Linked DNA regions of Homo sapiens. The protein of the gene in region 2 interacts with the protein of the main gene of each other region in a biochemical or structural test. Each region holds a gene or a part of one and is shown on either strand. Other genes may lie near its edges.

Region 1 (3,751 bases), on a different chromosome or scaffold from region 2:
ACAATCAGAGTTAACCAGGCAAAGGGTATTAGGAGTTTGGTGTATTATCTTGTGGCTTTTCTGTAAGTTGGAAATTATTTCAAAATAGAGAGGTAAGAAATCCCACTCTTCACAGTTTGATTTGCATTAGGCAAGAACCAGGGAGTTAAGGCCAAATCATCACTGAAGCATTAGGTCCCAGTAGAAATGCTGATCTTTCCTGCTGCAGGGAACAACTGAGGGCTGGATTAGCAACCACGAGGCGTGGGTGAGGCGGGACCACACAGGATTTTCTTCCGTGGCTATTTCATTAGCAAAGCGTTCATCTTATTTAAAGCTGGTGTTTGGTAAAGGCATAATCAGGTGCCATGTGTTGTGGAGGCCACAGTTAACATTTTACATTGATGCTTCTTAGGAGAGAACAAAAAGCAAGGACACTCAGGGAAGCTGAGAGAGCTTTTCTCCTCCGCACTCCAGAATTCTAGTGGAAGCTGCCCAGATAAAACAGCTCAGGACTTTGAAATTTTCGGGGAAACAGAATTTTAATCAGCCTGCCATCTTATTCATTGTTCAGAGATGAAAAGAGCGGAAATCAACACCCCCTCATAATGTAGGTGCTGAGAACTTAGGTTCTGATTTCCACAGAATGATTTTCTTACAATATACTCTCTTTCTTTTCTTTTCCTTCTTTCTTTCCCTCCCTCCCTCCCTTTCTCCTTCCTTCCTCCCTCCTTCCTCCCATCCTCCTTCCTTTCTCTCTCTCTTCTGTCCTTCCTTTCTCCTTCTCCATTTTTTCTCGCCCTCTTCCCTCCCTCCTCCTCCTCCTCTCCTTCCTCTCCCTTTCCCCCCTTATCTTTCTCCTTCTCCTCCTTCTTTTGTCCTAACATGAGGTGATAAATCAGAGGTATATAATAAAAGCCAGAATGACCTGGGCTGGTGGACAGAACTCTGACACATGCCGGCCTAAAGTCTGAGTGAAATCCATTTACTGAACGTCCAGCTCTGCAACCAGGAATTGTCAGATGACTCAGGATTTAGTCTATTGTGTTCTTGGGGTCGCCTATTGAGACCACACCTCTTTATGGGTCCTGCGTTCCTGTAGCTAGATTCAAAGCAAAATGTTTCTTCCAAGCAATTTCCTGAAAATGAGTAATTAAAGTCCTGAAACCCTCTAAGGAATGTTCAGGCCTGCATTCGCTGTACTTCCTTCGAGGAGAAAACAGACCTGTGACCCTGAACTTATAGCTTGGATTTTAGACATGTAATGGGGCCCTCACATGGCATCTCTGGGTAGCCAAAAGTTCTATGAGGATCTGTTGTCTGCAACATGGATGTCTGTCAGAGTGAGACCAGCTCACTGATATTCCGGGACATTTGTAGTCACTTCAGTTATTTGGGTTTTAATAAATACTTGAAAACAAGACTTAGGAAGGTTTATTTTTCCTCTTTATTTTTTGTGTTTACTGTAAGCCTAGAGTCCTTGCGTTTTCAACAACTTTGTTGTAGAGCAAATAAAAAGTGCAGGTATTTGGAAGGAGAAAATGAAACTGTTCTGGAACACTTATATGAAATGTTGAATAAATATAGGTTGTTAAAAATCAGCCAGGCAATGGCTGTTACTGAACATGGCCATCTATTAACATGAAATAAACTCCACCTGCAAAGTTTCCTTTTAGGAGAAAGGAGCTCAAGTCCTCTGTCCTAGTAATTCTGCGAAGAATTGGGCTGCGAAGGGCTGACACCCAGGGCAGTGGGGTGCCCTCAACGCCTTGGCTCCAAGGTGCTTGCAGCCCGTGTGAAGCCATGCGGAGTCCCATCACATCTGCATCCTGCCTTGGTCTCAGTGCAGTGTGTCACACGGCGGCACACCGGTCACACCTGCTGTGGCAGTCCCCATCCCAATTGATGCCTTTTCTTTTTTTAATTAAAAAAAAAAAATCTCCTGGCTGCATATCATCAAGAAAAACAACATTGTTTTCAGGGTCTCTTATCTCTCCACTCCCAAATATCCTGTTTCTTTGGGCTGGACAGCCAGGACCAATAGAAACCTCTTCCTGCCATTGGCTGACTTCATTTCCCAGACTTAGCACAATCTCATCCGCTCTAAACAACCTCATCAAAACTACTTTCTGGTCAGAGAGAAGCAATAATTATTATTAACATTTATTAACGATCAATAAACTTGATCGCATTATGGCCAGCACTATTAAGGTAAGGAAAGGGTTCCTTTTAATTTGACAAAATCTTGTTCTTGTTACTCTTTTCTTTGGTTTCCTTTATCAAGGCAGATAAGTTAGGGTTGGGCAACACCCCCACTGCCACAATAGAGGACAACAAGATTTCCTTTGCACTGCCTAGTAAATTTCCTTTTTCCTACTCCAACCATCCGCAAGGCTTAAAAACTTCAAACTCAGAAAAAAATTGGGGTTTCTAAATTCACTGTTGAGTGCTGTGGATTACTTTTGGAAAGGCTTTTCGGAGCGCTTCTGAATTTTCAGATTCTCTAACTATCCCTAACGGTGCCTGGATGTGTGTCTGAGAAAAGGCAGCAGACTCGGAGAGGTTGAAGGGTCGGGTCAAAGCAAAAGATGCGTTTGTGAATGTCAGACATTTGGAGGCTCTTCAGTGGCTCCTTAGCATCAGGGATGCCAGGCAGTCCCAGTGGAAGCGAAGAGATACTCGGCAAGTGGCTGCTGGTAATGGGACGCAAATGTTGACTTGATTTGTGGGACATCCACGCTGAGAACTGAGTGCTCACGTAACTCAAATGGGGGTAATTTGGTTTGTTCCACTATATGTTTATCTTCAATAAAATACCTACTGTCTGTGCACTGTGAGTAAGATTTCTTCCAGCAATGGTTAGGTTTGCGGAGATTGGAAAGCAATGGCCGGTCGGTTCTCTGTGCTGTGGGGTGTTTGGTCTGATGCATTTCCTTGCCTAAGTTTTTAGTAGATAGCATGTAGAGATTAATGTGGAGGTAAATCTGCACAGGTACAATCCTAAATATGGCCTGATTCCTGGAAATGAAGCCAATTTAATGGTGACTACAAGTCAAGGGGCATGCAGTCTTGAATGGGGGTCCGTTCAGTTGTTTTAAAGGCCACCATGCCTTCGTGACATTTGTAGAAATGTGAAAAATCAGCAACAAAAGCAGATGCTGAGTGGAGGGAAAAGAAAATTGTGTTTGTTGCATGTCTTTAGTTTTGCTGCACGGAGGTGAGAAGCATTTGGTGGTGTTTTCATAAGGCTTTTAGTTTGTTGGAAAGTGCATAAGAAAATGGAAGTTTGCCCAGAATTGGGCCAAGCCATTTTCAAAAATACTCTTTGGTTTGGTATTTTCATAATTTGAAATGTTTGTATTAGAAGATTTGACTCATATGTACCATAGAAACTGTGTTTGAGAAGTTCAGCTTTTATTTCTCAAGGTGTGTTCAATAATATATTAAAAATCTGTGTACCAAGAACTTTCACCTTATACTTTTCTTTCTTTGGCTTCAAGGATTGGAATCTGCTGAAATATGGCTCCTATAGACAGGAATTATAAAATTGAGAGTTAATGTGCCCTACTTATAGCTACATGAATAGAAATTACTTGATTTTGTGACCCAAAATGTTATTTTTTTGTTCTTATTTTCATCCTTATTCATATGCATGTTAAATCAAATATTCTGTGTAAATCTTGAATAGCTTGGGTACGATCTTATGTGGTTTTTTTTCCCAAAAAACTCAGTGCATTAAAAAGGACATTGAAATAACAGACCATCCTTTAGA
Region 2 (3,751 bases):
ACTGAAAGAGCTGGTTTGTTTCCCTTAGCTATCTGAGACAACACTAAGAATTCCTAAATACAAAGCTACTAAGTCTGCGTATTAATGTGATTATTTTTCCTTCCTAAATGATCAGCAATTTGATAGTAATCTACCTCCAACTTCTTAATTGGCAAGGGGTTCAAGAGGCCTCAGTAGGTTAAAAACACTCCCAGCAGAAAACCAACTAAAAATATTGCCTCAATACCAAAATAAATGCTTTTAAACTAGATCATTTGTCAGTTAAAATATACTCTTTATTAAAAGGGTTTTCACGAGGCTTCTCTCATCCCCTCATCAAAAAATGTGATTTAAACATATCACATATCTGATTACCAACGCCTCTGAAAACACTACTTACCAAAAGAGCTGAACTTAGTGAGAATTCGCTCAAAGCTATGCTTTTTCACCTGAATGAAGGTGGCACCTCTCTCAATCTTTGAAACCACACTGGCTTCATGTACGTGGCCTGCAACTTGGGGAGCTCAGGAAGAATCCGGCATAACGCGGAGGCCATCAGGAAAGAAACACACACAAGAAAGTGGGAGGAATTCTCACCATCGCACTTACCTGCTGCATGCACAAAGTATGCCAAATATAAATCGAGTTCCTTAACAGAAACCCCTATGTGATGGGGTTGGACACAGAGCCCTGGATTAGAGCATTGTGGGGACTTTACAAGGCGCTCGCCATCAGTACTTTCCAGCGGAATACCTTTAAACAAAATCACCATAACAAGGTCCAACCTCCAGACTTTATCTGCCTGGCGGAGGCAGTCAATTCTTCGCATCTTGCCTTTCTGGTCTGGGTTGGAAAGAACACAACATGGAGGTTTTTTCCCTGTAACTGTAAGAACAAAATCCTCTCGATATTCGGGTCGGATATCTTTCCGCAACTTTGCCAGAAGTCGAGATGCCCACTTCTGCTTGACCTCTGGTTTTTCACTTAGCAATTCATCCTTCACGGCTCTCTCTTCTTCTTTTGACATACGCTTTTCATGTTTTTTGAAGTATTTTCGTTTTCGGGCCTGCAGGTTGAACCATGTGTAGGCAAAGGCTCGGACGTGGGGCAGAAGTGCTTCGATGAAAGGATGAAATTCATCCTAGGAAAATGAACAAAAAGAAAAATATAAGTAGAATGAAAACAAAAGAAAACAACTTTTCTTCAGCGGGTCACCTTAAGAAAGAAATTCCTCATTTCACTTGAAATTTGATTAGAGCATTCTGTTACCAAAATCATACACAGGATCCTATGGGAAGTCTGGGAAGGTGGGAGAGAAAACTATCAGTATCATTTCTTATGATCGGAAATAAAAAAACTGCTGAAAATTAAAAAACTGTTTTAATATGTTCACCAGGGTACACCAGCTACTACTGTCGGGCCTAGCTCCCCATCCTTTAGATAGTAAGTGAAGTTTATCTAAATGCTTATAACAATGTATAATCTTAACCCTATTTCAAGGAAGGCATATCTAATTTTGTCCCAGCCTTGACCTCACCACTTGTAGTACAGCCAGGGCCCAGCCGCCAGATTGGCAAATCCTAAACATTTAGATGCCAGTCAATGTTTATGGAAGTCTAGGAGCAAAAAATCATCTCTACAATCAATGAAAACAAAGGCTTTCCCCCTAAAAATATTGCATGTAGATTCTGATATGTTTCTTACTCATTTTGCTAGTGTCTAAATTCCCCTTTTAAATATTATAACTACATATAATTTTTTTAGTCAAAAACTAGGACAAATTTGGGAGGTTCATATACAAAAGAAGGATTGAATTTGATATTTATTAGGCTAAAATAAAAGATCTATGCCCAAGACATAATTGCTAATACTATGGGAATGAAACAAAAAGGGGGAAGAAAGAGGAAAAAAAAACAAAGAAAAGCATACATGAATACATTTAATTTACTAATATGATTGTGAAGTGCTTTCAGTAATAATCATACCTAAAAAATAGATTATTTAATTTTTGCAAATACTATTTCAGGATTTTTCTCATAGGGAATCAGAACCTGGTATTTTCAATATTTACAAGATGCCGGGAAAACCCTCATAGATGCCTCTTAAAATTGAAAAAAAAATTGAGTTTCAAATATTTAAATGTTTCTTTCTGTTTTGCTTAAAATGTTTGATCCTTATACATGACATTTTCTTAGGAAATATAAATATATTTTTTAAAAAATTAAGCAGTAACCTCCACAAAGCTTTCGGAGTACGTCTAACTTTTGATTAACTAATCCACACTGTTACATAACTTCTCTCTGCCACATAACCCCCTCTCCAAAACATAGATTACCTTCAAATAAATGAGGATTAGAAACCAAAGAAAGATTCGATGGCTTTTTTGCTAAATGGTGTAGGACAGACAAATATTATAAAATGCATTCTTTTTCAGTTTGTTATATCTAACTAAATATATACTTTCAAGGCACAGGTAGCAGTAATGTCCAGAATATTATTATTAACACAATTACTAAATTTTTAAATGTTCAAATGTGAACTGATAAGGTAAAATATTTAATAGTCGTGTTGTTTAAAAATTTAGCAAATTATAATCAATCATTTAAACACTCTATATGACTGAGCTTTTAAAAGTAAGTATATATTAATACATAATAAATTACTTCAATAACTGACTTTTTTCCTCTCTGCACAAATTTCAGGTTCTATGTTTCAAGTTTAGCTTTCAAAACTGCTCTTTTTCAATAAAAGAATCCAAAAGAGAAGTAGTCAGCTTTTGTAACACGTGTGCATTCTTTAAGTAGAGAGAGAATAGAAAAAAATACAGGAATTGTTATTCTTGCCATAAACCATTAACATTTTTAAAATTTCTGATGTTTGAGAATATTTCTTATTCTCATACTTTAGGTGACAGGCATGGGGGGCAAGTCACAGTTTATCTGCAAAGGTATACGCCAAACCACAAAGCATCTAAACGTTACTAAATTCTGAGCTCATCCTTGAAATGATCTAAAATACATAAATTTTAGGTTTGAAACAGAACTTCACATTGACTGATTTTCTTATATATACAAGACATGCTAGGGACCAAGACTCTGTTGTATTATGCAAAAAACTCCTGGAGTCTACCTTAAACTACCAAGTGAGCTTTCACCAAAAGGAGGACTTCATTTTAAAGTTTCATCCCCATTTTATAATGCAAAGTATAACTTAGCTCCAAACGATTCATATCTATGTTAAAATGTTATCTTATTTAAAAGTTTGATTAATGATAATAAGCATTTAAAATAAACATTCTAATATGGCATTTTAAGTGTCTGTAGATACTCCCAATATGCTTTTCAAAAAACTGCAAACTGCATGCATGCATTCGTGTCCAACAGGATTCTGTTTACCTGCCAACCAAATGCCCATATATCTCATCATAAAAATCCTTAAACAAGAACAACTATGTCAATTAGTCATTAAGAATAACTTAAGTCCCCAATTTTGCATCAAAAGTATTTACAATGTATTACTCCCCAAAGGTTAAGAACCTGCCAGTAAAAGTCCACAATATTTTGTATAACTTTACTCATATGCACAATTAAAGTATTGATTTTTTCTAATGTATCTTTCTCAAGTCATGATTTAAAATATTCCAGAATATCAAAACTAAAGAGTATCATTAGCTTGCAAGAAATGTCCAGGAATAGCATAAATGATTAGTTAAAAAAAAAAAGTAGTGTGCCCTTATAATTCATGTTGCTGAACATATCGCTATAAGCTAGGT

The links. Proteins that work in one complex are often made in the same cells at the same time.
Region 1: the proteins of NFIA (region 2) and ERG form a complex in vitro, tested with the Homo sapiens proteins (one study listed by BioGRID).

What each region holds. Positions count from the first base shown.
Region 1 is NC_000021.9:38,496,802-38,500,552, reverse strand, and holds the start of ERG (transcriptional regulator ERG), read left to right. Parts: upstream 1-2,075; 5' UTR 2,076-2,172; coding exon 2,173-2,190; intron 2,191-3,751. UniProt on the Homo sapiens protein: Transcriptional regulator. May participate in transcriptional regulation through the recruitment of SETDB1 histone methyltransferase and subsequent modification of local chromatin structure.
Region 2 is NC_000001.11:61,085,518-61,089,268, reverse strand, and holds part of NFIA (nuclear factor 1 A-type), read right to left. Parts: intron 1,121-3,751; coding exon 589-1,120; intron 1-588.